3 separate regions of the Homo sapiens genome follow, and all the other regions are linked to region 3. The links come from fine-mapping of genetic effects on gene expression. A gene starts in region 3. Each other region holds a variant in brackets. All regions are shown on one strand. Distances are from middle to middle.

The links. PIP is the estimated chance that this variant, and not a neighbour inherited with it, causes the effect.
Region 1: its variant is fine-mapped to the expression of ASB16 in lung (GTEx, PIP 0.94).
Region 2: its variant is fine-mapped to the expression of ASB16 in transverse colon (GTEx, PIP 0.92).

The regions. Positions count from the first base shown.
Region 1 is chr17:44,200,496-44,210,793 of GRCh38, forward strand. It overlaps UBTF (upstream binding transcription factor), which reads right to left. Exons shown (of 21, transcript NM_014233.4): 13 at 10,297-10,298; 14 at 9,823-9,978; 15 at 9,629-9,739; 16 at 9,150-9,238; 17 at 8,857-9,046; 18 at 7,369-7,416; 19 at 7,204-7,275; 20 at 6,959-7,102; 21 at 4,545-6,872. The coding sequence ends at 6,747. All of the region lies in intron 1 of ATXN7L3-AS1 (ATXN7L3 antisense RNA 1), which reads left to right. It overlaps MIR6782 (microRNA 6782), which reads right to left and starts at 7,344; the gene lies at 7,276-7,344. RefSeq lists silencers at 1-37, 9,403-9,452, 9,873-10,298, 9,906-10,200 and enhancers at 1-230, 6,468-6,968, 7,610-8,809, 9,906-10,200, 9,910-10,298 and 1 more. The variant A/G (reference allele first, on the strand shown) is at 5,308.
Region 2 is chr17:44,252,363-44,260,362 of GRCh38, forward strand. SLC4A1 (solute carrier family 4 member 1 (Diego blood group)) reads right to left here. Exons shown (of 20, transcript NM_000342.4): 7 at 7,447-7,570; 8 at 7,135-7,219; 9 at 6,801-6,982; 10 at 6,051-6,261; 11 at 5,624-5,818; 12 at 5,297-5,445; 13 at 4,988-5,182; 14 at 3,311-3,484; 15 at 2,845-2,934; 16 at 2,134-2,300; 17 at 756-1,009. Among named protein-coding and RNA genes, the nearest start is that of SLC4A1, 12 kb to the right of the region's middle. RefSeq lists an enhancer at 4,712-5,668. The variant AAGGCTGG/A (reference allele first, on the strand shown) is at 4,012.
Region 3 is chr17:44,165,895-44,176,585 of GRCh38, forward strand. It overlaps ASB16 (ankyrin repeat and SOCS box containing 16), which reads left to right and starts at 4,810. Exons shown (of 5, transcript NM_080863.5): 1 at 4,810-5,196; 2 at 6,152-6,419. The coding sequence starts at 4,896. ASB16-AS1 (ASB16 antisense RNA 1) reads right to left here. Exons shown (of 3, transcript NR_049730.1): 3 at 10,079-10,691.

The DNA.
Region 1 (10,298 bases), 34 kb after region 3:
CAGCCACTTCTGTGAAGAGGCCAGACTTGAAGTGGGGCGCAGTTAGGACCTCGGGGCGGAAAGCCTGTGGAGCCTAAGGGGCTCGCCCGCGCCTCAGTTCTCCCGGTTTCTGGGCGGGTCTCAGCCCACTCCAGGCTTGCGGACCAACAAGCGGCCGAGATGAGGGTCCGCTGCTGAGGTCGGAGGCCGAGCTGCGCCCTTCTGCGCGGAGCGCCCTCCCCGCCCCTCGTCCTAATTTAGATCCCACACCTGCTCGCCTTTCCTGCTTCCGGAACCCACGCTGGACCCCCACCCCTCCAGACAGCCTCCTTGTCACTGGCCAGATCCTTCCCCCGACCCAGTGCTGTTCCCCTGGGTGCAGCGTGTCCCTGTGCTCACGCTCTCAGTCCCTCTTTACCTTAGGAAGGGACAGGCCTTTTCCCAGCCGCGGTGGATGGCTGGATTGGCGCTTTCATCTCGGTTACTCTGTGTGTGGTGTCCTGGAACGGTTGTGTGACAGCCCTCTCCCCTCAAGAGATAAGATTAAAAAGGAGGATAGTCTGTAATCACATACTTGGAGCCATCTTTGGTTTTTAGTTTTCAGCAAATACTTATTTTTTTCTCACCGATTTCTCCCGAGAAACAGCAAACATTTATTGAGGCGATATTCCAGAGTAGTTCAGATCAGGCGTCTGATTTGAATTTAAATCGTTGGGCCTAGCAAATGAGTTTCCTGTGCCTCAGTTTCCTCTGTTGTCAGTGGGCATAATGATAGTCCTATCTCCTTGCGTTGCTGTAGTGATTAACAAGTCAGTGCATGTGAAACTCTTAGCTCTGTGTAAGTGCTTGGTAAATCTTAGCTGTTATTCTCACGGTGCTCCAGGTGCTGGGATAAAAGATGATATAAGACAGTTGTGCTTCTTCAAGAAGTTCACTGTCTTGTGGATAGATAGGTAGGATAATAATTGCAAAACAGTGTGAGGAAAACAACAGAGAGAAAACAGAGGTAGACAAAAGGAGACATCAAATGATGTAAGAGAGTTGGTCAAGAAAGGCTTCTTGGGCAGGGTGCGGTGGCCCAGGCCTGTAATCCCAGCACTTTGGGAGGCCAGGAGTTCGAGACCAGCCTGCAAAAATGCAAAAATTAGCTGGGCGTGGTGGCGGGCTCCTGTAATCCCAGGAGCTACTCGGGAGGCTTAGGCAATAGTAGTAATCCAGCTACTCGGGAGGCTTGGGCAGGAGAATCGCTTGAACCCGGGAGGCGGAGGTTGCAGTGAGCTGAGATTGCGCCACTGCACTCCAGCCTGGGCAACTGAGCGAGACTCCGTCTCAAAACAAAACAAAAAAGAAGAAAAAGAAAAACTTCTTATAGAGGGAGATGAACCAGGTGAAGGTAGGCCAAGAAGGCATTGGACATCCCCAACTGGAAGCTTCAGAAGCATGGATCAAGCTGGAACAGAGGAGTGGGTGGCAGAGCAGCAGGAGGTGAGCAGGCTGGATAATACAGGACAAAGCAAAGTAGGTGTTGAAAAGTTTGTGGGCTTTAGCCTGTAAGCTGTGAGGAGTCCTCAAGGGGAATCATTCACCAGACTTATATTTTTAGTGGATCATGCTGGAGTATGGTCTGGAGAATAATTTAGAAGCAGTAGGTTTTTTGTTTTGTTTTGTTTTGTTTTTTTAGACAGCATTTTGCTCTGTCACTCAGGTGCAATCTCAGCTCACGGCAACTTCTGCGTCCCGGGTTCAAGTGATTCTCATGCCTCAGCCTCCTGAATAGCTGGGATTACTGGCGCACGCCACCACGCTCGGCTAATTTTAGTTTTGTATTTTTAGTACAGACAGGGTTGCACCATGTTGGCCAGGCTGGTCTCGAACTTCTGACCTCAGGAGATCCGCCTGCCTCAGCCTCCCAAATGCTGGGATTACAGGCATAAACCACTGGGCCTGGCAAAAGCAGTAGGTTTTTGTTACTGATTGAGGTGTGTGGAGGAAAGGAGAGGGAGGTCTTGAAAACACCTTTACTAGGATGGGGAACTCAGGGGAGGACATGGGAGGACACAGGATGACTTCAGTCTGGGATATATTGAGGTTACTGTGGGATCAGCTGATGGAGACCCAAAAGGTGGTTGAACTCAGGTCTGGCACAGAGAAGTAAGCTAGGTCTTCAGGAACTTCAACAACATCGCCTCAACCTTTGTTTTCTCTTATCTCCCGCCTCCTTTTCAGGAATTCTTCACTCCAGTGATGCTGATCTGTTTCTTACCTAAATATGCCCAGTACATTCTGCCCTAAGGAATTTGCGCCATGGCCAGAAAATCCTCCTGGCTTCTCCCTGTTTACCTAAATCCTTCCTCATATCCCCACCCATGGCCATCCTCATACCAAACTTCTTTACAACTAGACTGTACTATTCATTCTGTGCTTGGCCTGGGCTGCTCTGTGGTGGTGACCTCTTTGGGCACGTGCCCAGTCTCCACAGTTAGCACCAGTTCATAAACACTAAGGCCTGAGCTGGTCCTGACTCTGGGTGAGGCCCTGGGGTTACAGCAACAAGCAAGAGAGACACACAAACCTTGTCCTAGCGCAGCTTACAGCCTAGCAAGGCCTGATGTGAAGGAAATAAGGCCTGAGTGTGAAGGCATTCAGGCTGCTGAAGAAACGTATAGTGTGGAGACCTTTTTTCTCAGGAGTTCAGGGAAGGAAGTGGTCTTTTAAGTGGAGACCAGAATTAACTAGGCAGAGAGAACACCATGTGTATAGGCCCTAGGAGAGAGCATGTTATGTTCGAGACATGAATGGTCAGTGTGGCTAGAGTCGGGGGAGGGCTAACGGGGGCAGCAGATCCCCAAGGGCCTTGTGGGCCAGACCTATTCACCCACTCAGCAAATCTTTCTTGATTGTCAAATGTATATCAGGCAGTTTCAGGTGCTGAGATTACTGTAATGAACAAGCAGATAAGGTGTCTTCTACTTGGGGAGATAGATAATAAACAAATACATAAACAAGAAGATGGAGGAGGCCTCTCTAGAGCAGGTGGTTGGGAAAGGCTTCTCTGTGAGAGGACATGTGAGTTGAGGCTTAAAGAATGAAAAAAAAAAATCAGGTATGTGTAGAGTTGGAGGAATAGCCATTCTAGGCAGAGAGAACAGGTGCCAAGACCCCGCAGGTAGGCATGTTTGAGGAACAGAAGAGATCACTTGGTTGGATCGTTGTAAGTGGTTAGGAAGAGCAGGGTGAGAGAAGATAAGAGAAGGAATGCGGGGGCCAAGCCTTGTAGGGCCATGGTAAGACATGGTAAATTTTCAGTACAGAAATAATCAGATTTATTTCTGAGATAATTTTGGCTGCCATGTGAAGAATGGGCTGTAGGGGGCGAGAGTGGAAGCAGGAAGACCAGCTTTAGGAGGTCTTTGCAGAAGTTGAGCAATGATGGTGGCCTGAAATAGGATGGGAGTGGCAGCTGTGGGAGCCACCCTGTGGGAGGGGTCGACAGATTTGAGACAGCTTTAGGAAGTGGAATGGAGAGGTCTAGGTGATTGAACCTCGAGGTGAAAGGGAGAGAGGAGTCAAGGCCAATACTCTGCTTTCTAGGTTGAACGACTAAGTGTTTGGTAATCATTTCGGGTCTTGAGGTATGAGATGTCTGCAAGATATCCCAGGGGATGCAAGGGTGTCTACACAGGTCTGCAGCTTGGAAGAGCAGTCTCTGTCGGCACCACCTTTCGGAATGGTTGCATATGCGTGATAATGGGAGGTTGAAGGGAGAGACATGAACACCTGGGATAAAATGAGGAAGAGCTGACACCAACAGAGTAGACCAAGAAGGCAAAAGACAAGACAAGTGTTCACCAGATGTAATGAACATGTTGGTGACCTTAGCAAGGAACCTCAAAGGATGGTGGTAAGTGGGAGGCCAAGAGGCACAACAAGCTTTTTAGCAGTTTGGCCACTATAGGATAGGGGCAAGGGCTGGGAGAGAGTTCTCCGACAGGACCTGGGTCTGCAGCCCTTTGAGGTTCCAGGAACCCAGCCAAGGCCTGCGCAGGAAAGGGTGTCTTCCCTTAATCTCAGAGAGTGAGTCATCTCAGCCCAGCCCAGCCTGCTTCCCATCAGAGGCCTAGATGGTCCTAGGAAAGTCATCCTTAACCCTTAACCTTTAACCTGGGATGGAGCTGAAGGCTCAAAGTGAGAGCGTGCTCCCTCAACTCCCCACGATAAGCCCTACACTAGGAAGGCTTGCATGCCCAGGGCGAACCCTTGACCCTAGTAGCTCATCACCTCCAATTCCCCAAGACCATGTACTTTGGGTGAAAATGCATTTGTTCTCCAACTTCTCAGAATCTTTAGTGGTCTCACAACCCAAGGTGAACAAATGGAATTGAGAAAAGGGCAAGAACAGTAGCACAGAACAATGTGAAGGTAGGTTGCCTATGGAATCTTTAGGGAAGAGGAAGATAGTTCTAGGAAGAAAAGGCAAATTGGCTTCAAGCATTTTTATAGATCAAACCTGTTGGGTCACCCCTGTGAACCTTCATTGATTCCAGTGACCAGACAGCAGTCAAACCTTTGTTTTTCACTTTATTATACAAAAAAGGGAAAACAAAACTTCCACAGTTGGCTTTAAGCATAGGCAGACACCTCTAAGCCACTCCCTCCCACCTCCCATGATACAAATTCAAGTTGTGGTGGTTGTTGAATCCTACAAAACACTCCTTAAATATTAGAAAAGAAGTTGGGGGTGGGGATGGGGGTCTTCCCACCCCAGCCATCCCATCCCAGTGCCAAAATGCACTCAAGAGTGACCTCTTACAGCACCAACACCCCCACCCTGACAGTCCTGTTTGTACTGTAAGAATTTTTCAATTTTTAAAACAGGAAAGAAAAAGTGCCCCATTCAAAGTTGTTTTTAAATGAAAATACATTCCACTGAAACACAACAGTGTAGGGGCATCCAAATAGGAAACTGGGGTTCTTTGCAGGGCTCTTGGGAAGAAATAGAACCTATAAACCCCTGTACTTAATTCCAGGATTAGGACAAAGGAAGGGGAATGGGAGTGGGGAGTGTCCCCCCCAGGCCTCCCCACCCCCAGCACCAAGGTCCAAGGCAAAGCAGAGACTGTCTGCCTTCCTTTGGGAGAGGGACCCACCAGCCTCTCTGGGACCAGGGCCCTTCACCGTTCTTGCTCCACCTCCGCGGCAGAGTTCCCGCTCTTCCCCCATTCCTTGGCTTTCATTCAGAGGGGGAAGGTGGAAAAGCACCAAGCCCCAATTTAATAGGTCAGTGACATGACCATAAAAAAGAACCCCCCAAATTTAGTCAACAAAAAA[A/G]TAAGAACTACAGAGATAAGGTGGCTTGGCTTATTAAGAGTCAAGGAATCAAGGTACCAAAAAATACGGGAGATGGCTGGGAAGAGTTAGAGACAGCTGCAGATGCAGCTTTTGCAGACTTCTTGCCCAGCTGTGGGGTTGGGGGAGGAGGGAGCAGACCTGAGAAATTAAAGGAAATAGGGGGTGGTGGGAGGATTCAAGGAAGGCTGGAGGGATGTGTAAGTTAGGAGCTCCCAGCACATTTCTTGAAGCCCAGGTTCTGAGCCTGGGGTGGCCAGGCTTGGCCTCTCAGATGAACAGGGGAGACCTTTTCCATCAAATACAAGCTTTAAGCTTCACACCATCTTGCCTGCCTTTCCGCCTTCCTGCTGGACAATGGAGACCAGCAGCTCGGATGCATGTGACTCTGGCAGAGGGAGCCTGGTCTGGGAAGCATCCGAGAATGGCTTCAGCACACTCCCCCTAATGGAATCAGAGACTGGGCAAAACAGAGGATGTGGAGAACGGGGCAGCCTCAGCCTGCTCCCACCAGGGTCAACATCTCCCGGCCCTCACCGACCCTTTTTCCAGATTCACAACAAACTGATGTGGGCTCTAGGACAGACCCCTTTACACACACACACACACACTCACACTCTTTTGCACACATCCACAGCTGCACCCATGCTATGTACAGGAACACACATACACATACTCTCTTCCACATACATCAAGACCATTTTTAAAAGGTTCCAAATCTACCCCTAAACCCTCCCTCTCCCAGAAATGACAACAGAGACGGCAGCCGAGATCGGTAGGAAACGTCTCGTTGACAGCTCAGAGCTTAAAAAAAAATATATACACATATATAAAAAACACTTCTGCCCCCTCCCCCATGAACGGGTCCAGGCAGCTCCTTCCTGCAGGGGGCAGGGGAGAGGGCCACCAGGGCAGTGCCTGTTTTCTTGAAGGCACCGACCCTCCTCCTCCCCATGTTCCCTGCCTCCAGTTCCAATGCAGGGGTCCAGGTGGCAGGCCCCTCTGGGAAGGAATGGGTCTTCCCCAAGCTTCCACCCCACCTTGGATTGGGCCGCAGGTGTGGAGGGCCTCATCAAACTCTTTGGGACCCCCCACCCCCACTCTCCGGTCCATTGTCCATGCCGGAACCGCAAGTGCAGAAGTGGGTGGGGTGGGCCAGGCTGGTCCGGTGCTGGCTTAGTCTGATAGTTGCTGTCCCTGGAGGAGGACCCCCAAGGGCTGATGTCTCTGAGGCTGCAGAGTCCTGGCCTGGGCTCCTCCAGCCCCCTACCCCCACCGTATTTTTTTTTTTTTTTAAAGAAAGAAAGAAAGTGGGGGAGGCCAGGGGGGCAAGGGACAGAACATGGGGGAGAAACAAAGGTGGTCAGTTGGGGAGGGGAGCTCCTGGGCTCTCCCTGGCTGCCCTGGGGTGGGGCTGAGCCTCAGTTGGAGTCAGAGTCTGAGGAGTCCCCTGAGGAGGAGGAGCTGGAGCTGCTGCCCTCGGACTCATTATCTTCATCCTCATCGTCATCCTCGTCGTCGTCTTCGTCCTCGTCATCCTCTTCATTCTGGGGGGTGAGAAAGGATGTGGAGTCACCAGGTGGCCCTCCTGGCAGGACTCCCCTCCCCTCCCACTGTGCCCTGTCTGCCCCACCTCATCCCCATCCTCGCTCTCGTCCTCGCTGCTGGACTCAGAGGAGTCGCCGCCATCTTCAGAGGAGTCCCCATTCTCATCATCTTCCTCTTCTTCATCCTCGTCCTCGTCATCCTCATCCTCTTCATCATCCTCCTCGGACTCCTTGGAGGGATGGAGGCACATCAGTGGTCTCTGGTCTCTGCCCAACCATTCCAGGCAGTGCCCCCCGCCCCACGCCCCTGCATCTGGGAGGGGCTCCTTACCGACTTGGACTGCAGAGTAGTCCGGCTGGATTTGGGGTTTGGGCCTCGCAGCTTGGTCATGCTCTTACGTTTCTGCAGGATGGGGACACAAAGGTGGCAGCCATGAGTTCGACACCCCTGAATTCCCCCACCCCTACCCCACTGCTGCTCTGCTCCCAGACTCACATTGGAGATGTACTCTTTATATGCTGCACGGTCCTGGGGAGACAGGCTCTGGGGGAGACAGAAGCGGCAAGGGTTGGAACATAGCCAACTACTGCTGACTGAGCATGCTGGCCCAGTGCTAGGCAGTGGGCTGAGCATTTATATATCATCACCCCATCTTACCCCTCCCAGGCTCCCTAGATTTTGGGTCTCTGCAGAGAGCCCCTGGGATCTGAGAACACAGCTCTAATTTTTTTTTTTTTTTTTTTTTTTTTTTTGAAACAGGGTCTTGCTCTGTCACCCAGGCTGGAGTGCAGTGGCACAATCTCAGCTCACTGCAGCCTTGACCTTCCCAGGCTCAAGTGATCCTTCCAACTCAGCCTCCAGAGTAGCTGGGACTACAGGCATGTGCCACCACACCATGCTACCTTATAATTTTTTGTAGAGACAGCAATCTCACTATGTTGCCCAGGATGGTCTTGAACTCCTGGCCTCAAGTGATCCTTCATACCTTGGGCTCCCAAAGTGCTAGGATTACAGGCGTGAGCCACTGCGCTGGCCCAAACCCTAGTATTTCTGCTTCTGATACCCAGAGTCCTTCTCTAAACCACTAAGACTATTGGTTTTCACATTTTCCCTGTTGCTTTTCGCAAATGGAAGCTCCTATCAGAGTCTTCCTCACTCCAAAGAAGTGCCCCCGTGATGAGTCAGCCTGGCATCATCAACCACACCCCAACACCAAACCCTTGAGCCATCGATGAGGCAGTGGGGCTCACCAAACTCCTGAAACAGCAAATCCCCACAGTCTTCCTGGGTCCTTGGCCAACCTGCCTTGGTGAGTGGGAAGGACACAGGTGATTCTCTCCACTTTACAGATCTGACTACTCAACCAAAGCACAGAGGGGAAGCACAAAGGCCAGGAGTCTAGGAGAGGTCCCGTGGTCCCAGATGGGGGAGGAAAAGGCAGTCTGATTTGGATTCTTCTACTTACTGTGTGACCTTGGGCAAGTTACTTAACCTCTCTGAGCCTTGGTTTCCTTATTTTTAAAAGGGTGATAGTGGCTGCGGACGGTGGCTCAAGCCTGTAGTCCCAGTGCTTTGGGAGGCCGAGGTGGGCGGATCACATGAGGTCAGGAGTTCGAGACCAGCCTGCCCATCTCTACTAAAAATACAAAAATTAGCCAGGTGTGGTGGTACATGTCTGTAGCCCCAGCTACTCTGGAGGCTGTGGAAGGAGAATCGCTTGAACCTGGGAGGTGGAGGTTGCAGTGAGCCGAGACTACACCACTGTACTCCAGCCTGGGCAGGAGAGCAAGACTGTCTCAAAAAATAAAAAAAAAAATAAAAATAAAAGGGTGATAGTGACCGTTATCCTGAAGGATTGCGAGGGCATGGAATGAAATCATGAATGAGACCAGCCAGCACAAGTGGGTGGATGGGCCAGGCTAGGATGGTGCTGGCTTAGTCTGATGCCTCTCTGTTCCTTCCAAGGGTCCCTTGCCCTCTCACCTTAACCCAGAGGTCCAGGTGCACCTTGTACTGCTTTTGCTGCTCCTCGGCCAGCTTTTTGTAGTGCTCCTTCTGGCTCTGGGAGATGCGCTGCCAGCGACTGCCGATCTCCACCATGCGCTCCTTCAGCGGCAGGTGGTTCAGCTCCCCATTGGACAGCAGCTCCTGGGAGAACTTCTGGTAACCGTTCCTGGGAGGTGGGTTGGTAGAAGGAGGGTCAGGACCCCAACAAAGCAGCCATCCAGCCCTGACCCTCCCCGACCTCCAGGGCAGACTCCAACCCCCAGGCTCACATGGGAGGCTTCTTGGGTTCTCCCTGGAATTTCATCTTCTTGGAAGAATTTGTAGCAGCTGGAGGTGCCCGCATCTCACTCAGCTCTCTCTGGAGGGAGAAAGGTCACGCTCACCCCCCAGTCCCACCCCCAAAATACTGCTGCCTTCTGCCTCATGCCATCAGCACCTTAGCTGGCTGTCTTTTTCTGTGCCAGGGAGGAGGAGAAACAGGTAGCTAGTGAGCAACTTCCTAACAGCTCACGTCTGAGGCAGGCACCACAGTTTACAAGTGCTTTCACAACTGCTCGCATCCTCCGAGTCAGCCTGGAGGTTAGCAATGTCACCCCCACCTTACTGATGAGAGACAGAGGTTCAGAGAAGGAAGCTGAGACTTGCTGAGAGTCACAGACCAAGGCTGGGACTTCTTGCTCAGAGCTGCCCAACCAAAGGGGAGTTCCCGAGCTTTCAATGAATGGGGTGGCCCCAGCCCCATTCCTACCTCATATCGCTTTTGGTCTTCGGCTGCCTTCTTAATCCACATCAGTTTCTCCTTCTTTTCCATGTTATTCCAGGTCATTTCCATGGCTTTCAAGGCCTTCACCCGGTCATTCTGGGGACCAATAAGGGTATCAGCCGTGGGAGGGGTCACCCGGGGCTAGAGGCTGCAGTACTACCCTTTCCCACCCCTGTCACCTTGAAGCGGGCCAGGTAGTCGCCGATAACGCTCTGTTGCCAGATCTCCTCAGCTCTTTTGGGGGACTCGGGCAGCTTGCCCCGTTCCTCGCGCTCCCCGCCGGGCTTCCTCTCCGACTGAGCCTTGAGCGCCGCCTCTCGGGCCTTGTACTTGGCCTGCGGGGATGGCCCGGGCGTCAGCCTTCCACCCACCCCCAGGGGGCGCGCGCTCCCCGCGCAGCAGCCCAGGCGCTCCCGCCGGCGGGCAGAAGCATGGGCTGGTGCAGATGTCTCCCGCCTGGGGCTCGCCCCCGCCTGGTCTGCGGCGCTCAGCTGACAGCTTCCCGCCTTCCGGCTGCTGGGCGCCGGCCCCACGTCCCAGCCCAGGCACCGCGTGGCTCAGGCGGCCAGGGGCGAGGTGGCACGGCCCGCCAAGGGGAAGAGGGGGCCCTGGCAGCCCCCCTGGGGGCACAGCGCTCCGCCAGGCAGCCTGACCT
Region 2 (8,000 bases), 85 kb after region 3:
TTTTACAGATGAGGAAACAGGCTCAGAGAGGTAAACAACCTGCCTAAGGCCACACAGCTGGCAAGGAGTCAAAGCCCTGCCTGCCTGACTTAAGCCCACTCCCTTAACCTAATGAGGGTCACAGAGGTCAAACACACACACCTTTCTCCTCACCCCAGCCCAGAATGCCATCAACTGCCTCCTTTAAGAATTTTCCCTGACCTCTCCATCTGCAACCATGGCACTGCCCACACCGAACCCAGCTCGACTCTTGGCTGCTCCAGAACTGAAATCAACCCCAGTGACCCTTCTTTCTTCTCCCCCACATCCCTGGACTATGGCTAGAGCACCGCCCCTTGTATCAGTCATGGAGCAGCTGAGCTGGAAGAGAACTGGGGGACATCTGTTGAACCCTCCAACTGTGCAGACAGGGAAACTGAGACCCAGAGACAAGGAGGGATACTGGGTTAGCAGCAGGGCAGGGCTAGAACCCACAGTTCACTGGACTTCTGTTGGGTAAGTCAGAAGGTGGGGTCTGGTCTGGAGAAGGCCTCGGAGTGGAGCCCCCTTCCTCCCTGCTCAGACGCCCAGCCCAGTGCCTTGGCCTTTCCTCCAGGATCCCCTCGTGTGAGTAGGGGATGCTGGGGAGATGTGGGGAAGTGGTGCAGGATGGGGGAGGCTGGAGGAGGTGCTGGGTCCGAACAGAAAGGGGAAGGGGAAGGGGCCGGGGGTGAGGGGCAGGAGGATGGTGAAGACGCGACCCAGCTTTCACTCACCCACAAGCACAGCGACCAGGAGTCCACTGATCCGCTGCTCTTTGACCTCCTGGATCTGGGCTGCAGCCCCTGGGGTGCTGGCTTTGCCCATGACAGTGAGGGCGTTGGCATGGGTGACGGAACGCACGGTGGTGGCACTGAGCCAGGGCATCCCAAAGAGGGCGGCCACCCCACCCATGCCTACTACCAGCAGCAGGTCCAGGTGGAAGCCGGAGCCCTTGACCATCTTGCGCTCAGGTTTGCTGACAATCAGCCTACGGTAGGGGAAGGTGAGGGGTAAGCAGGGTTCTCCCCTGCCTCCTCCACCCCCTCCTTCCTTCTCCATACTTGGTGTCCTTGTAGCTCAGTTTTGTCTTCTGTGCCCCTCGCTCTTTGAGTTCCTTGCTCCCCTCCCTCCCGCCCCATCTTGAGAATCCAAACTCTTAAGAGCAGAAATGTCTTCACAACATTCAAGGCTGATTCGCAGGCAACGAAGCTTCAGCTTCAGGGAGCTTTGCTTGTACAGGCCCCTCCAAGATCCAGCACCTAATTTTATAGTTGTCATTTTGCATTTTTTTTTCTTTTTCTTTTTTTTCCTAGAGTCTTGCTCTGTCGCCCAGGCTGGAGTGCAGTGGTGCGATTTTGGCTCACTGCAACCTCTGCCTCCCGGGTTCAAGTGATTTTCCTGCTTCAGCCTCCCAAGTAGCTGGGACTACGGGCACATGCCACCACACTCGGTTAATTTTTGTATTTTTAGTAGAAACGGGGTTTCACCATATTAGTCAGGCTGGTCTCAAACTACTGACCTCGTGATCCCCCCGTCTTGGCTTCCCAAAGTGCTAGGATTACAGATGTGAGCCACCTCACCTGGCGCTTTTTTTTTTTTTTTTTTTTTGAGATGGAGTTTCACTCTCGTTGCCCAAGTTGGAGTGCAATGGCGAGATCTCGGCTCACTGCAACCTCCGCCTCCCGGGTTCAAGCGATTCTCCTGCCTCAGCCTCCCAAGTAGCTGAGATTACAGGCTCGTGCCACCATGCCCGCCTAATTTTTTGTATTTTTAGTAGAAACAGGGCTTCACCATGTTAGCCAAGCTGGTCTCGAACTCCTGACCTCAGGTGATCTGCCCGCCTCGGCCTCTCAAACTGTTGGGATTACGGGCGTGAGCCACCGCGCCCGGCCACGTTTTTTTTTTCTTAAAAAGAGCTCTCCAAATTATACAACTTCTGGTCCCACAAAACCTGGAACTGCCCCTGGCTTTTCACTATTCCTGCTAGTCGGGAGGGCCACACACCCGCAGGGACTAGCTTGCAGTCCTGGGTCTCTTGCCTGCCTGGGAGAATGCCAGGGAAAGGTCCCTGCCTCCCACCCTCCCAGGCCCAGCCCCCACCCTGTCTCTCACGTGGTGATCTGAGACTCCAGGAATATGAGGATGAAGACCAGCAGAGCAGGCAGGGCGGAGGCAAACATCATCCAGATGGGAAACTCGGAACGCAAGCCCAGTGGGTGGATGACCCAGCCCCGGGCTGAGGAGTTGGACACCTTGAAGCCATCAGGCACCGAGAGTTTCTGTGGGAGGGGGTAGCAGGTAAGAATGCCAAGGGCAGGAGGATGGGGAAGGGTGGGAGCAGGAGGAGCCAGGGTCCTAGGGGTCGGGCAGTTAGGTTGGAGGCACTTGGGAACTTACTTATATTGAGCACTTGCTCTGTACCTAATCATTACACTAATCCCTTTACATCCATCTGCTCGTTCCCCACTTTAAAGATGAGGAAAGAGAATCAGAGAGGTTATGTAGCTTGCCCCACATCACACAGCTATTTGATGGCAGAGCTGGGATTCATGCCTAGATCTGCCTGGCTCCAAAGAATACTTCTTCCTACTGCTCTGGGTTAAGGAATGAAGGTGGCAACCTGGCCCAGCACCTTGCTTTGGCCACAGGGGTCCTCTGGGGCTGTGAGAAGCACATGGGACTCCCAGAGGAGGCAGGGATGGGGTAGAGGTAGTCCCAGCTGGCTTCAGGTTGGGGAAAGCTATTCTAGGGAAGGGGCATGCTGGGGGGTGGAAATGAGGACCTGGGGGGTATCATGGTCTGAGGGCTGGGAGGAGGGGTCACCTGGGTGTAGGTATCCTGAATGAAGAAATCCACCAGGACCATGATCAGGATGGAGATGGGGACCCCGAAGTCCCCGATGACCCGACGCAGCTGGGGGCAGGTGAAAGGACCAGTGGTCAGTGCCCAGTCACTCCCCACCTCCTGCCTTCCTCCTGCCCTATATTCACCCACGGGGCCCTGCTCTTCCAGGGGATCCATCAGCATCTAATGCCCTGTCCTGCACCTCAGCTATGTCTGCCTCCTTTCTTCTTCCCCCAGCAGTTCTCAGGCTGGGCATGCCATGAAAGTGGGAGGGGCTTGCCCATAGAGTGAAACCCTAGGTAAGGATAGGGCCAGGGGAGGTTGGAATTGGGAATGGGAATCTGAAAAAGAAGGGAAGCTAAGGGCACTGAGGAATTTGGAGCGGGGGGGCTTTGGGCTGGGATAGGGCAGTGTTGGCAAGGACAGGCGAGGAGGGTATGCTGACCTTGCCAGGGAAATAGGAGCTGTTCTTGAACTTGCGCAGCATCATGGCAAAGAAGAAGGTACCGGCCATGAGCACAAGGGAGAGGAGGGCTGTGTTGGGCAGGGGGCCCTGAGGTTTGGGCACCATCAACACGTTGTAGTTATAAGTCTTCTGTAGTGGGTGGTCCTGGAAGATCTGCAGCAGAAAACCAAGGCATTCTGTTCTCTCCCAGCTTTGGCTTGGGCTGGAAAATACCACCAGCTAACTCTACCCAGCACTACTATCCATTCATCCAGTCATCTATTAATTCATCATCCATCCATTTATCCACCCATCCATCATTCATCTATCCATTATCCATTGATCATCCATTGATTATTCATCCATCCATTCATTATCCATCTACCCATCCATCCACCTACCTATCATCTATCAACCCATTTATCCATCCATTCATCCGTCCATCATCCACCCACTCATTCATCAATCATCCATCCATCCAACCATCCATCCATCCATCCATCCGTCCATCCATTATCCATCTATTCATCCATCCATCCATCTATCTTCTTCCTCAATTGACATGGAAACAGAGGATAAATGGGATTCTACAGCTTGGTTTTCAGGAATGAAGACAGCCTAGGTTTAGGCAGGGAGGGCCATGGAAGGCAATGGGTGTGTGTGCGAGCACACATGTACACCCAGGACCTGGGAGACATGAG[AAGGCTGG/A]AGGTCAGGAAACAAGGGTCAGGGAAGTTTCTAACAAGGGGTTAAAAGACCTGGACACAGAAAGACCCTCCATCCAACAGAATCAGGGGACAACACATAGGGCTCACCCTTCTCCCATATAAAATGCAGGTACAAAGGCAAGCAGAGCTTAAGATGATGGGAGCCAAGCCAAGGTGGCTGGGCACTCCATCCACAAGCCCTGCAGCTCTTGAGGACAAGCACAGGGGAGGGAGTGGGGGACTTCAGAGGCTCCAGAGTCCCCCCAGCTCTCACTGTGCATGTACTTTCACATGCTCAGTGTCATGCCCATACCTACCCATTGCTCACGTCATGTGTGGTCATGAACTGGACATGTGCACACAGAGGCACCCTCTCATGCCTCAGCAAGAGTGCTGGCCACAGGCAGCAGGTGCCAACACATATGTGGTCACAGTCAACACAGCTGCACAGTCCTGTGTGCAGATGTGTGACTACACAGACATAGACACATATGTTGACACAGACACATATGTTGTCACAGTCATGTGCACAGTCACATGGTTATGTACACAGGTGAAAGCAAAGACACACAAATGCTGCACAGACACATGTGCGAGGACACAATGGCTCAGTCTTTTTTTTTTTTTTTTGAGACGGATTCTTGCTCTGTTGCCCAGGCTGGAGTGTAGTGGCACAATCTCGGCTCACTGCAACCTCCACCTCCCGGGTTCAAGCAGTTCTCCTGCCTCAGCCTCCTGAGTAGCTGGGATTACAGATGCATGCCACCACATCTGGCTGATTTTTGTATTTTTAATAGAGATGGAGTTTCACAATGTTGGTCAGGCTGGTCTTGAACTCCTGATCTCGGGTGATCCACCTGCCTCGGCCTCCCAAAGTTCTGAGATTACAGGCCTGAGCCCTCGCACCCGGCCACTGTCTCAGTCTTATACACAACCTCCCGTGTGCATTAACATCCCCATAGGCCCCCACCTTGATCAGCTTGGAGAAAGTCTCATAGATGAAGATGAGGGAAATGAGGAAGGAGAAGATCTCCTGGGTATAGCGGGAGATGAAGCGGACCAGGAAGCTACCCTCGAAGGCCACCACCAACACCACCAGCAGGATGAGCCAGAAGCCGATCCACACGCGGCCCACGATGTACTCTAGACCGTTGGTCTCGCAGAACTGCAGGGTGGTCAGAAGAAGCCGGTCAGTCAAAGGGTCTTGGGGCAAGGCACCATGCATCAGGCAGGTGGTGCGGGGGACATGACAGGGTCAGTGGGGCAAGGACAGAACTACCGAGAAGAAGGCTTCCTCAAACACCAGCAGGGGTCCTGAGAAGCCGACCACAAGCAGGGGCTGAGCCCCCAGCAGGGCGAAGAGAATGCCCTGCACTGCAGTGGAGATCAGCAGCTCCGACACTCCCATCTGGTTCCGGGTCTTTTCTCCTGTGGGTAGAGGTCACAGTGGGATCAAGGTCAGGAGATCATTTCCAGGAGCCCATAGAGCAAGTCATGGTCAGGCTGATGCAGGGGTCTGGAGGGTCAGACAGAGTCAGAAGTTGGGGCTGAGACAGAGGCCAGAGGGTCAGAGGCAAGAGTTAGGGAGACAGGTATTGGCACTGACCCAGGAGGCCGCCGAAGGTGATGGCGGGTGACAGTGCAGCAAAGTAGATGAAGATGACGGCAGCCAGGACCTGGGGGCTGAATGCATCTGTGATGTCACTCAGGTAATAGGGGTAGCGGCGCCGGATATCACGCACCAGGCCCCCGAAGAGCTGGCCTGTCTGCTGCAGAGGGTCATCTGGGCCCCCATTTAAGTCTGTGGTGGAGGATAAGAGCATGGTCAGAGGGAGTAGCTGGAGGAGGTGAGGGGAAAGGGGACTGGAGGGTGTAGGGGAGATTGTCTGATGGGAATGGGGCGGCGAAGAAGTCTGGAAGATGTGGGCAAAGGGAGCGATGAGAGGGGAACATGTGATGGGAGACAGAGGCTACGCTGAGGTGTCTGGGGGTCGGTGGGGGCTCAGAAAGCCTCAGCTGGGAAGGGCAGGTACCTAGGCCCTTGTAGAAGCTGGAGTCTGGCTTGGCAGGGCTGGACTGATAGCGCCTTCGAAGTAGCTCCCTCTGCACAGGCACCAGACTGAGCAGTGCCTGCTCGGAGGGGGCATCGGTGGGAGGCAGCACTAGGCTGCAGTCCAGGAAGCCCTCTAGGGAGTGCAGCAGCTCCCCTCGGCTCTGAGCCATGTAGGCATCTATGCGGAACACCTAGGGGCAGGAGACAGGGTCAGAGCTGCCCGGACCTGCGGAGGGAAAGGACCCAGGAGTCCACAGCCAGGGCCTCCAGGAACCAGAACCCCCTCAGGCAGCAGCTCCCATTGCCAGGAACTGCTTTTCCTGCCCGCTCCCACCCCTACTCTCCCCACTAAGAAAGAGCTCTGGGGAGACAGACGGGGGCCCTGGGTGGGGAAAGGAGAAGGAACTAAAGCTAACCTGGTGGGTTAAGCAGACTAGATGAAACTAGAGCTGACTAGGCCCGACCAAGCCTGACCTGACCAGGTGGAACCAGGTCATAGTGAGCTGGACTAGACTAAGCCAGGCCAAAGCCAACCAGACGAGACCAGGCCAGAGCAGGGCCAGACTGCACGCCCCGACTGCCCCCGCCAGGTAGGATAGCAGCAGCTGGATTAGGCTGAATGGGTCAAACCAGTGAACCTAAAGTAACCCAGGCCAGGTTGGAGAGCAGGCCTCAGCCACCATGCAGGTCCCAAGCTTCCCCAGCCCAGCCCTCTCCGGCCCTTCCTTACCCTCTCTGACATGAGGGTGGCAGCAGCCCGGCCAAGCTGGGTGTAATCGATGTGGGGGGCCTCAGGTCCCAGCAACACAAAGAGGAAGCGTATAGGCACCGGCAGCTCCACCGCCTCCAGCTCCGCTGCCTCCTGCAGCCTCACGAAGCCCAGCACCGGCTGCTCCAGGAAGTCGGCGCGGCCTGTTAGGGGATGAGAAGATCAGGCCAGGCCGAGGAGCCCAGGGTGGGTGTGCTGAAGAGATGGGGCTGCGGGGGTCCAGGCTGAGGGAAAGACAGGCTGAGCCAAGACACGAGGGGTGTGGAGGGCTGAGGGTAGAGATGCCTGTTCTTACCCACTAGCACCAACGTGGCCTCTGAATCCGGGGGAATCTTTTCCAGAATTCCAGATGGTGAGTGCCCTTCTGTGCCCCCATCTCCCTGTGGGAAGGAGGGTGGTGACGGGAGTCCTCGGGCCAGTCTGACCTGGGAGACCTGAGCATCCTCCCCTTCCCATTCTCGCTTCCCAACTCTCCTGGCACCCCCCGGGCACAGGAGTGCTTCTGGTCCCCTGCTTGTGGTCGGTTTTTCAGGACCCCTGCTGGCGTTTGAGAAAGCTCTCTCCTTGCCCCACCCTGACCCTGACCCTGACCCTGTAACTGACTCACCTGCTCACAGAAGAGCTGTGTCTCCAGTGAGGAGTGTTGGGGGAGCAGAGGCTGTGAAGGATCCCCAGAGCGTGTCAGGACTGCAGGCTTCACACCCCCCAGGGCCTCCAGCTCTCCAGCGTGGCTGCAGGACGTACAGGGGACATGGGCTGAGTAAGCTGTTCAGGCTGAGCTATCAGTGGTGGGAGGGATCAAGGGCGAACATCAAGGGACTGGGGTAGACATCAAGGGTAGACATCTGGGACTTCCCAGACCAGACCAGAGAGACCCTGGGATGGAAGGAGAATCAGAGCCTCCTCTCCAAGGACGTTGTAGATGTAAGTGGGTGGCCTCTGGAATGACGAGGCGGGATCAAGAGTGGCTACAGAAAAGGGCCTTGCAGGTCTGCCCTCCTGGGGACCAACAGCCCCCAACTCTGAGCATAGGACATGGCCACCCCTTTCAAGGTGTCAGAGATGGGAGCCATAGTGGAGGAAAGTGGGCCCCTGCCTGGTGAGGGTAGGGCCACCTGGATCCCGGGGGAGAACTTGGGGCAAGTGGGCTGGGGAAGTGGG
Region 3 (10,691 bases):
TGGGAAAACTCTCCCAACTCATGGGCAAGAGGAGGCAGGTTAAAGAGCCCGGTTTGGGCCAGGTGTGGAGGCTCATGCCTGTAATCCCAGCACTTTGGGAGGCCGAGGTGGGAGGATCCCTTGGGCCCAGGAGTTCAAGCCCAGCCTGAGCAAGGTGGTGAGATGCTATCTCTTGAATAAGTAAATAAAATAATAAATAGCCCTGTTTGACAGCCAGCCCCTCCTGCCTTAGCCTCAGCCTGCACTAAGCAGCTAGGAGACAGAGGCCTTCCATGGGCATGGGCTTGGCACTCCTCTGGGGGGAAGCGTTAATCTCCTTTTCCCAAAGAGGCTGATCCCATGGATTCCAGTTTTGTTGTTGTTGTTGTCGTCGTTTTAGAGACATGGTCTCACTCTGTCACCAAACTGGAGTGCAGTGCAGTGGTGTGATCATGGCTCACTGCAGCCTCGATCTCCTAGGCTTAAGCAGTCCTCCCATCTCAGCCTCCCAAGTAACAGACTACTGGTGCGTGCCACCACGCCTAGCTAATTAACAACATTTTTCTGTAGAGATGGAGTCTTGCTGTGTTCTCCAGACTGGTCTTGAACTCCCGGGCTCAAGTGATCCTTCCCACCTCAGCCTCCCAAAGTGCTGGGATTACAGGTGTGAGCCACAGTGCCCCACTGGATCCCAGTCTTAAGGCTGAAGTGAGTAAGTGCTTTGAGAACTCCATGTTCACTTACCTGCTGATTACAGCAGGGCCCTGTTCTAGAGGCTTTTGTGCCACAAGGCCAGGGCAAGAAGGGGCTAATTCCCCTGCACCCTGGTCCCTTCACATTCCCATTGGGTTTTTCTACCTGAACCTACCATACATTTCCTTCTCTCCCACCTTCCACTCCCTGCTAACTCCCCATCTACACTGGGATCTTCCTGCACCTAAACCCCCACAGCTGGGAGTGGCAGCATGCACCTGTAGTCCCAGCCACTTGGGAGGCTGAGGTGAGAGAATCACTTGAGCCTAGAAGATTGAGACCAGCCTGGGCAACATAGGGAGATTTCGTCTCTAAAAAAATAAAAGCTCCCCTCTGCCCTGGGCCTATTCCCCATTCTTGACACCCATGAGCCCCGGTCCCCCTGCTCAGTCCTGATCAATCCCACGCTCACATCCTGGCTTCTTGTGTGCTTCACTACCCCACAGGCTCTGAGATCCCAGAAGGCAGGCTGGGCATCTGATCACCTGGCCCTGTTCCCTCCAGGTTGAAGTCAAGGCCTCCTTTCTCTGCCCTCAGGAAGCTAACTCTACAGACAAGGGGACTGAATACAGTGGTATCTTGGGACTAAGCTGTTAGGGTACCTAGCTCCTTCAGGTCTGTGTGGCAAGAAGGCAGGGGAGGGGCTAGGCTATGACTCTTGTGTGCCTCAGGGAGGAAGGGGACACCCACCTGCCTTGGCCTCTCTTGGTCTCACCCAGCCTTGCCAGATTCTCAACCCTGGGAACCCAGCTGTGGGTGCCCAGCCAGGCCGTTGATGTGGCAATTAACACACCAAATGGGTGCCAACAGGGTTCATCAAGGCTGCATTTATAGAGGCATCTTTCTCTGAGGACCTCCAGGCTTTGCTTTGTATGATCTAATTCCTCCTCTGGGATCCCCCACCCTGGACTGCCACCAAGAGGCTGGAGCCAGGCAGAGAGTAGGTGAACAGTAGAGTAGGGGCAATGCCGGAAAAAGCCCAGGCTGCTGCCACCCACTTGGGCGGGCGGGTGGATGGATGTTTGCTCTGGCAGAGAACAGGGACCTTCGTTCAATGCACTACACATAAGAGGCCCGCCTGCCATGAGCCAAGTGCTCTGACTGCCAGGGCCTGCTCTGGAGCCCACATCCAGCATGGCAGACCCACATCAACAGCATAGATAGGTGCTTTACAGCGTGCCCCTGAGTCCTTCAGGAGTGCAGATTGGGCAGTGGCTGGAACTATAAGAGTCAGGCAATGGGTTGCTGAAGAGACCTCTCAGAGCAGGTGACCTTAGGGGTAGATCCTCAGGAAGGTGTTGAGGGAATTCTGAGCTAAGGGAATGGCCTGACAGGGAACGGTTGTGGGGAGCCGTGCGTGATGAGGATGCCTACCCTACGTGAGTGGCATGGGGCCAAACCAAGGAATTGGGGGCTTAGTTGAAAAGGGCAGGCCAGGTGCAGTGGCTCACACCTGTAATCCCAGCAATTCAGGAGGCTGACTTGGGAGGACTGCTTGAGGCCAGGATTTGGAGCCCTATTTTAAAAAAATGAAAGGACAGGTATTGGAAGGCAGCAGAAGTTTTTAAGCAAGGGAATTAACCATTTTAGACAGATCATTCCGGCAGCGGAGCAGAAGGGATATGGCCAGAGGAAGAAACACCAGGTGAAAGACTGAGTTGATCCAGGTTTAAGGCATTACATCGAGGGGCTGAACTTGAGACAGTCCCTGAAAATGTAAGAACAGGAGCTAGAACTTGCTTATGGGAAGGGCCTAGGGAGAGGAAGAAATAAAAGATCACTGGGCAAGGTGCTGCTGCAGGGCCAGGAGGCAGGACAGGCAGCGGGAGAAGGGCCAGGAGGAGCCCCAGATGCAGAGGGGACAGACCAGCCCTGCCTGCAGGCCGCTGTGCACTGAGTGAGCTCAGGGTGAGCAGAGCTTTTGAGCCCTCCCCTTCCCCAGCTTGGCAGGCACACCAGCTTGTGTGGTTTCACGGCTTCATTCCTCCCCCTAGAGGCTCCTGGAAGCACAGCTGCTTTCTCCTAAGAGTGAACAGGTCTGTGGCTTAAACATCTTAGGTCCATTCCCAGAGTTTCCAGCTCAACCCCTTGGCTCTCCTCAGGCCGGCCATGTGAGCCCCCTTAGCAGCTGGGTTAAAAAAATAAATCAAGGATGATTGAAGGTGCTGGGAGCTGTGGCTCACGCCTGTAATACCAACACTTTGGGGGGCCGAGGCGGGCAGATCGCCTGAAGTCAGGAGTTTCAGACCAGCCTGGCCAACATGGCGAAACCGACTACTAAAAATACAAAAATCGGCCGGGCGCGGTGGCTCACGCCTGTGATCCCAGCACTTTGGGAGGCCGAGGCGGGCGGATCACGAGGTCAGGAGATCGAAACCATCCTATTCTTGGCTAATACGGCGAAACCTTGTCTCTACTAAAAATACAAAAAATTAGCCAGGTGTGGTGGCAGGCGCCTGTGGTCCCAGCTACTCGGGAGGCTGAGGCAGGAGAATGGCGTGAACCCGGGAGGCGGAGCTTGCAGTGAGCCGAGGTCGCGCCACTGCACTCCAGCCTGGGTGACAGAGCGAGACTCCATCTCAAAAAAAAAATAATAATAAATAAAAATACAAAAATCAGCTGGGCATGGTGGCATGCACCTATAATCCCAGCTACTCAGGCAGCTAAGGCAGGAGAATCACTTGAACCCCAGGAAACGGAGGTTTCAGTGAGCCGAGATCACCCCACTGCACTCCAGACTGGGTGACACCATGAGAAAAAAAAAAAAAGGATGATTGAAGGCAGTTTCTACAGACTAGTCTGTCCTGCTTGGAGAATGGGGGAGGCTGCCAGGTGGCTGCAGCAGCTGAAGGCAAAAAGTGTACCATCTTTTTTTTTTTTTCTTCTTTTTTTAAGAGATGGAGAGGCAGGGGGTGGTGGCTCACGCCTATAATCCTAGCACTTTGGGAGGCCGAGGCGGGCAGACCACGAGGTCAGGAGTTCGAGACCAGCCTGGCCAACATGGTGAAACCCTAAATTAAATCTCTACTAAAAATACAAAATTTAGCTGGGCATGGTGGCGGGTGCCTATAATCCCAGCTACTCAGGAGGCTGAGGCAAGAGAATCGTTTGAGCCCGGGAGGCGGAGGTTGCAGTGAGCCAAGATCGTGCCATTGCACTCCAGCATGGGAGACAGGGTGAGACTCTGTCTCAAAAAAAAAAAAAAAAAAAAAAAAGATATAGGTCTCACTGTGTTGCCCAGGATTGTCTCAAACTCCTAGGCTCAAGCAATCCTCCTGTCTTGGCCTCCCAAAGTGCTAGGATTACAGGCATGAGCCACCATTCTTGGCCCAAAGCACACCATCTATGTGGGGTCCTGGCTCTGCCTCTCACAAACTGTGACCTTGAGCCAGTAGATTACTTTGTTAAGCCTTAAATTCCTCATCTGTAAAACAGAGATAAGACCACCCATCTCAGGGGCATTCAACTGTGATAATTTCATTTATTGTCCAAACCAAGTTTACTAATTATTGGGTGGGCTGGGAAGTATGATCCCCTGGGTGAAGGTGGATATGAATGTGATTTAAACACCGTGAAACTCTGTGCATATGTACAGAGTTATTGCTGTTACTGCAGATGCTGGGAAGAGCTGCTCACCTTCTCAGTAACTCTGCCTTGACCTCCCCTTACCTCCTGTGCTGAGGTCAGCCCTCTCTCCTCCACGTGGGCCAATGGTGGCTCCTGCCCTCCAGCCAACATCAGAGAGGCTGGAGGCACCTTGTCTTCCTCCCAGCCCTGCCCATCTCCATGACTGACCTTTTTGCGCACCCTGGACCTTGCCAACCCAAGATGCTCGCTCTAGAGATGAAGGTGGATGCAGATGCTGGGGTTCGGGGGTGGCCTCAGCTGAGGGCCTGCTGACCAACCAAAGGGTATCGGCAGGGGCAGGGGCTGGCCCTCACCCTGGGCTGGGGGTTGGGCCAGCAGCTTCTCAGCACCAGGATCATGACTCTGAGCAAACCATGTTTACCAGAGCAGCAAAGGACCTATTTATAGCCTCAGCTGCTGCTTTCTCTGGCTCACGGTGGCGGGGGCAGGGTGGCTCCTCAGAGCAAGGGAGGTAGTCGGGTCGAGGGAACCTGGCTCTGCCCAGGTGCCACTGCCCAAACCCCTGGGCCCCATCCATGGCAAGAGAGACCTTCCCCTTCACCTCCTCCATGCTGCGCTCTCTCCGCCTGCAGCAGGAGTGGCTGGAATGGGAGGACCGGCGGCGGGCGGCTGCCCAGCAGTGCCGGAGCCGCAGGTGCCCGTCAAGTCCCCGGGCCCGACTCACTAGGCCTCACCGTTCCTGCCGAGACCCAGCTGTCCACCAAGCCCTCTTCTCCGGCAACCTGCAGCAGGTCCAAGCCCTGTTCCAAGATGAAGAGGCCGCCAACATGATTGTGGAGACTGTGAGCAACCAGCTGGCCTGGTCGGCTGAACAGGGTAGGGGGCACCAGAAGAGGGCAGAAGAGGAGGGAGAAAGAAGGGGAGTGGGTGGGGAAGGGGGAGAGTCTAGGCCCCTCCTTCCCTGCAGACCACAGACTATAGCAGCCCTTTCCACCACCTATCCTAGCTCCCTCCTAAACAGAGATGAGGCAGGGTTAGCAGTCTGTATGTCTTTTAAGAATTAAAAGTTGACCGGGCACAGTGGCTCACGCCTGTAATCCCAGCACTTTGGGAGGCCAAGGCAGGCGGATCACGAAGTCAGAAGTTTGAGACCAGCCTGACCAACATGGTAAAACCCCATCTCTACTAAAAATAGAAAAATTAGCCGGGCATGGTGGTGCGCACCTGTAATCCCAGCTACTCAGCAGCTGAGGCAGAAGAATCACTTAAACCCGGGAGGCGGAGCTTGCAGTGAGCCAAGATAGCGCCACTGCATTCCAGCCTGGGGGACAGAGCGAGACCCTGCCTAAAAAAAAAAAAAAAAGAGACAAGGTCTCACTATGTTGCCCAGGCTCATCTCGAACTCCTGAGGTCAAGTGATCATCCCGCCTTGGCCTCCCAAAGTGCTAGGATTACAGGTGTGAGCCACCACCCCAGGCCCCAAGGTGAACAAGCCTTTGACACTATTAGCCATTCAAAGACGCTGAGATTTCCTTAATGGGAGTCACTCTACTTAGTTGGCCCCTGTGGTTTTATACAGCAATTAATTTTTTTATGACACATACTATGTTTTGTTACAGATTGATAAGCTGTATTAAAAGGCTGTTCCAATTTATTCTTCCACTTCAGGACTTGAATAAGCCCCCTTCCACAGGTACAGCCTGGCAGTGTTTGTGCTCAGCAAACCATGCAGAGGGAAGGCCAGTGTCAGCTGTCAGCTGGAACCAGCATCCCCACTCCCTGCCCTGCCCTGTCTTATACACCACCTCCCAAAACTATTTGCTCTCCCTAGGGTTCTGGGTGCTGACCCCCAAGACCAAGCAGACGGCACCCCTCGCCATCGCTACAGCCCGAGGCTACACAGACTGTGCTCGACACCTGATCCGGCAGGGAGCTGAGCTGGATGCCCGTGTCGGGGGTCGCGCTGCCTTGCATGAGGCCTGTGCCCGAGCCCAGTTTGACTGTGTGCGGCTGCTGCTGACCTTCGGAGCCAAGGCTAATGTGCTGACTGAGGAGGGCACGACTCCTTTGCACCTCTGCACGATCCCCGAGTCCTTGCAGTAGGTGCCTGGGGGCTGAGACAGTTTGGGGAGAAATGTGTGTGTGTGTCTCCAGCTCACAAGGCCAGAAGAGGGAACCTGACAACCACATGCAGCTTTGTGGTTCATAAAGCACCGCATATACACATCTTCACAATAACCTGGAGACACCTCATCCTACAGATGAGAAAAATGAAGCTCAGAAAGGCTTAGTAACTTGTCCAAGGTCACATCTGCTAAGCCCAGGAGGCAGAAGCCCTGTTGCTTTTTGGGAAAACTCTGTTCCAACTGCAGTCTCCAATACCCTGTGAATCCTTTGTAGCCAAACCTAGCTGTTTTTTTTTGTTTTTTGAGACGAAGTCTTGCTCTGTTGCCCAGGCTGTAGTGCAGTGGCGTGGTCTCAGCTCACTGCAACCTCTGCCTCCTGGGTTCAAATGCCTCAGCCTCCCAAGTAGCTGGAATTACAGGTGTGTGCCACCACACCTGGCTAGGTTTTGCATTTCTAGTGGAGATGGGGTTTTGCCATGTTGGCCAGGCTGGTCTTGAACTCCTGTCCTCAAGTGATCCACCCACCTTGGCCTCCCAAAGTGCTGGGATTACAGGCGTGAGCCACCATGCCCAGCCCAAATTCCTAGTTGTTTTGAGGTATTAAGAAAGATCTGGCCAGGTGTGGTGGCTCACACCTGTAATTCCAGCTACTAGTAGGTCGAGGCACAAGAATCGCTTGAACCCGGGAGGCAGAGGTTGCAGTGAGCCGAGATTCTGCCACTGCACTCCAGCGAGACTGTCTTAAAAAAAAAAAAAAAAAAAAAAAAGCCGGGCGCCATGGCTCACGCCTGTAATCCCAGCACTTTGGGAGGCTGAGGCGGGTGGATCACGAGTTCAGGAGTTCAAGACCAGCCTGGCCAACATAGTGAAACCCCGTCTCTATTAAAAATACAAAAAATTAGCCAGGCTGGGCATGGTGGCTGGCGCCTGTAATCCTAGCTACTCGGGAGGCTGAGGCAGGAGAATCGCTTGAACCCGGGATGCAGAGGTTGCAGTGAACCGAGATTGTGCCACTACACACTAGCCCCTGCAACAGTTGAGACTCCATCTCAAAAAAAAAAAGACCTATGGGCCAGATTCAGTGGCTCACACCTGTAATCCCAACACTTTTGGAGGCGGAGGCAGGAGGATTGCTTGAGTCCAGGAGTTTGAGAATAGTTTGGGCAACGTAAGTGAGGTTTTTGTCTCTACTAAAAATAAAAACTAGCCGGGTATGGTGGCATGAGCCTCTAGTCCTAGCTACTCGGGAGGCTGAGGCAGGATGATCTTTTGAGCTCAGAAGTTCAAGACCAGACTGGGAAACATAGTGAGACCCTGTCTCTACAAAAAATAAAATTAGCCGGGCATGGTGGTGTGCATTGTAGTCCCAGCTACTCAGGAAAAGCATTTGAGCCCAAGAGGTCTAGGCTTCAGTGAGCTATGATCATGCTGCCACTGTACTCCAACCTGGACAACAGGGCGGGACCCTGTCTTAAAAAAAAGTGGGAAGAGAGGTATGGGGGTGCCTCACACCGATGTTAGGAAACACAGGGCTAGATTTTTTTTTTGGAGACAGGGTCTCACTCTGTTGCCCAGGCTGGAGTGCAGTGGCACAATCATGACTCACTTGCAGCCTCGATCTCCTGGGCTCAAGTGATCCTCCTGCCTCAGCTTCCAGGGTAGCCGGAATCACAGGCCAGTGCTACCACACCTGGCTATTTTTTTTTTTTTTTTTTTTGAGACGGAGTCTTGCTCTGTCTCCCAGGCTGGAGTGTAGTGGCCCGATCTCGGCTCACTGCAAGCTCCGCCTCCCGGGTTCCCGCCATTCTCCTGCCTGAGCCTCCCGAGTAACTGGGACTACAGGCTCCCGCCAACACGCCCGGCTAATTTTTTTTTTCTGTATTTTTAGTAGAGATGGGGTTTCACTGTGTTAGCCAGGATGGTCTTGATCTCCTGACCTCGTGATCCACCCGCCTCGGCCTCCCAAAGTGCTGGGATTACAGGCGTGAGCCACCGCGCCCGGCCCAACTGGCTATTTTTTAAAAAGTATTATTTTTAGTAGAGACATAGACTCTCTATGTGGCCCAGGCTGGTCTCCGACTCCTGAGCTCAGGCAATCCTCCTGCCCCAGCCTCCCAAAGTGTTGGGATTATAGGCATGAACCAATACACCAACCCTCCCACTTTTTTTAAGGTTGGCAGTTTCTTGGAGTCCCTGCATGAGGGTATTTGCACTTTCACAATCAGGTCAACAGACAGGGTGGCAGGTAAGGATTCAAGGGCTTCTGGAAGACTCTCCACTGCCCACAAGCTGGGGACCTCTCCCCACTAGATCTAGATGAAGTCCAAGAAGTGGTCCACATTTGCCAGCCCTTTCTTGGGTTCTTACAGGCATGTGGTGTGCCTTCCAACAGACTTCATCTTTCTAAGTAAGATGAGAATCCCCACTTACTGGAACCCTACTGAGCGAGCTTTGGAGTGTTAGTTAAATTTAGTATTTGGAAGCCGGGCGTGGTGACTAACACCTGTAATCCCAGCACTTTGGGAGGCTGAGGCAGGCAGATCACGAGGTCAGGAGATCAAGACCATCCTGGCCAACATGGTGAAACCCTGTCTCTACTAAAAATACAAAAATTAGCCAGGCATGGCAGCGCATGCCTGCAGTCCCAGCTACTCAGGAGGCTGAGGCAGAAGAATTGCTTCAACCCAGGAGGCAGAGACTGCAGTGAGCCAAGATGGAGCTACTGCACTCCAGCCTGGGCGACAGAGCAAGACTCTGCCTCAAAAAAAAAAAAAAAAGATTGGGCATGGTGGCTCACACCTGTAATCCCAGCACTTTGGGAGGCCGAGGTGGGTGGATCACGAGGTCAGGAGATCGAGACCATCCTGGCTAACACGGTGAAACCCCATCTCTACTAAAAAAATACAAAAAAATTAGCCGGGCATGGTGATGGGTGCCTGTAGTCCCAGCTACTTGGGAGGCTGAGGCAGGAGAATGGCAGGAACCCGGGAGGCGGAACTTGCAGTGAGCAGAGATCGCACCACTGCACTCCAGCCTGGGCAACAGAATGAGACTCCATCTAAAAAAAAAAAAAAAAAAAAAAAAAAAAATTAGTATTTGGAAACAAAAATTAGCCCCACAATTAGAATTTACCAAGGAGATAATTCAGTAGCTTATGGAAGACTGGCTGCTACTCACATCTTGGCTACAGAGCAAAGAACCTACCTGGAATATGTGAGCAAGGATTTTGGCCATTTTGGGAAAGGGTATTTGATTATCAGAGTTTCATCGAGGATGGTGGATCTGCTCCTGTTTCCAGCAGCTGCCGTTCTGGCTTTTTAATTATAAGTTACTGTTAGTTTGGTTTCATCATTATTAATTTAGTTTGTTGCATGTTTGGTTTACCCTGCAGTATGTAAGGATGCATGTTTGCCACAACAGTGTTCTGGCCTATAATTTTCCCTGGAACTGGGAAACATGCACTCTTTAAAACCTGTTTTTGTTTTTGTTTTTCCTTTGGTTTTGTTTGTTTTCCCTAGGGGAAAGTGGAGGAGGATGGCCCCAAGTGCCTGCCTTTGCTTGAATGATTGTGGCCTGGTTTAGAAGAGTGGTCTTTTAAGTGTGGGGACAGAAAGAAAATATTATAACTTGTATTTATTTTTTTTTGGTGCATACTGTTTAATTTTCTATGCTTCATAACGTACACAGAAGTGGGTTTTCAAAATTTTGTGCTATCAAAATGTTAGGAGATAAGGCCGGGTGTGGTGGCTCACACCTGTAATCCCAGCACTTTGGGAGGCCAAGGCAGGAGGCTTGCTTGAGCCCAGGGGTTTGAGACCAGCTGGGGCAAATGGTAAGACCCTGTCTCTATAAAAAAAAATTTAAAAAATTAGCCAGGTGTGGTGCTGCCCACCTGTGGTCCCAGCTACTTGGGAGGCAGAGGCAGGAGGATTGCTTGAGCTTGGGAGGTCCAGGCTACATGAGCTGTAATCACACCACTGCACTTCAGCCTGGGCCACAGAGAGAGACCCTGTCTCCAAAAAAAAAAAAAAAAAAGGAGACAACTGACAACTGAATGATTCAGAACCAGACCTTGGGGTGGAGACAGAGTAGACTGTGGGAGGGACTGTCTGAGGCAGTGAGTACTATTTCTGGTGCAGCCACTAACTTGCTGTGTGTCCTTGGCTGCACAAATCACTCCTGGGCTTAAGTTTTTCATATGAAAACTGAAGATGCTTCTGGTAGCTCTCAGGACCTTCCAATTCT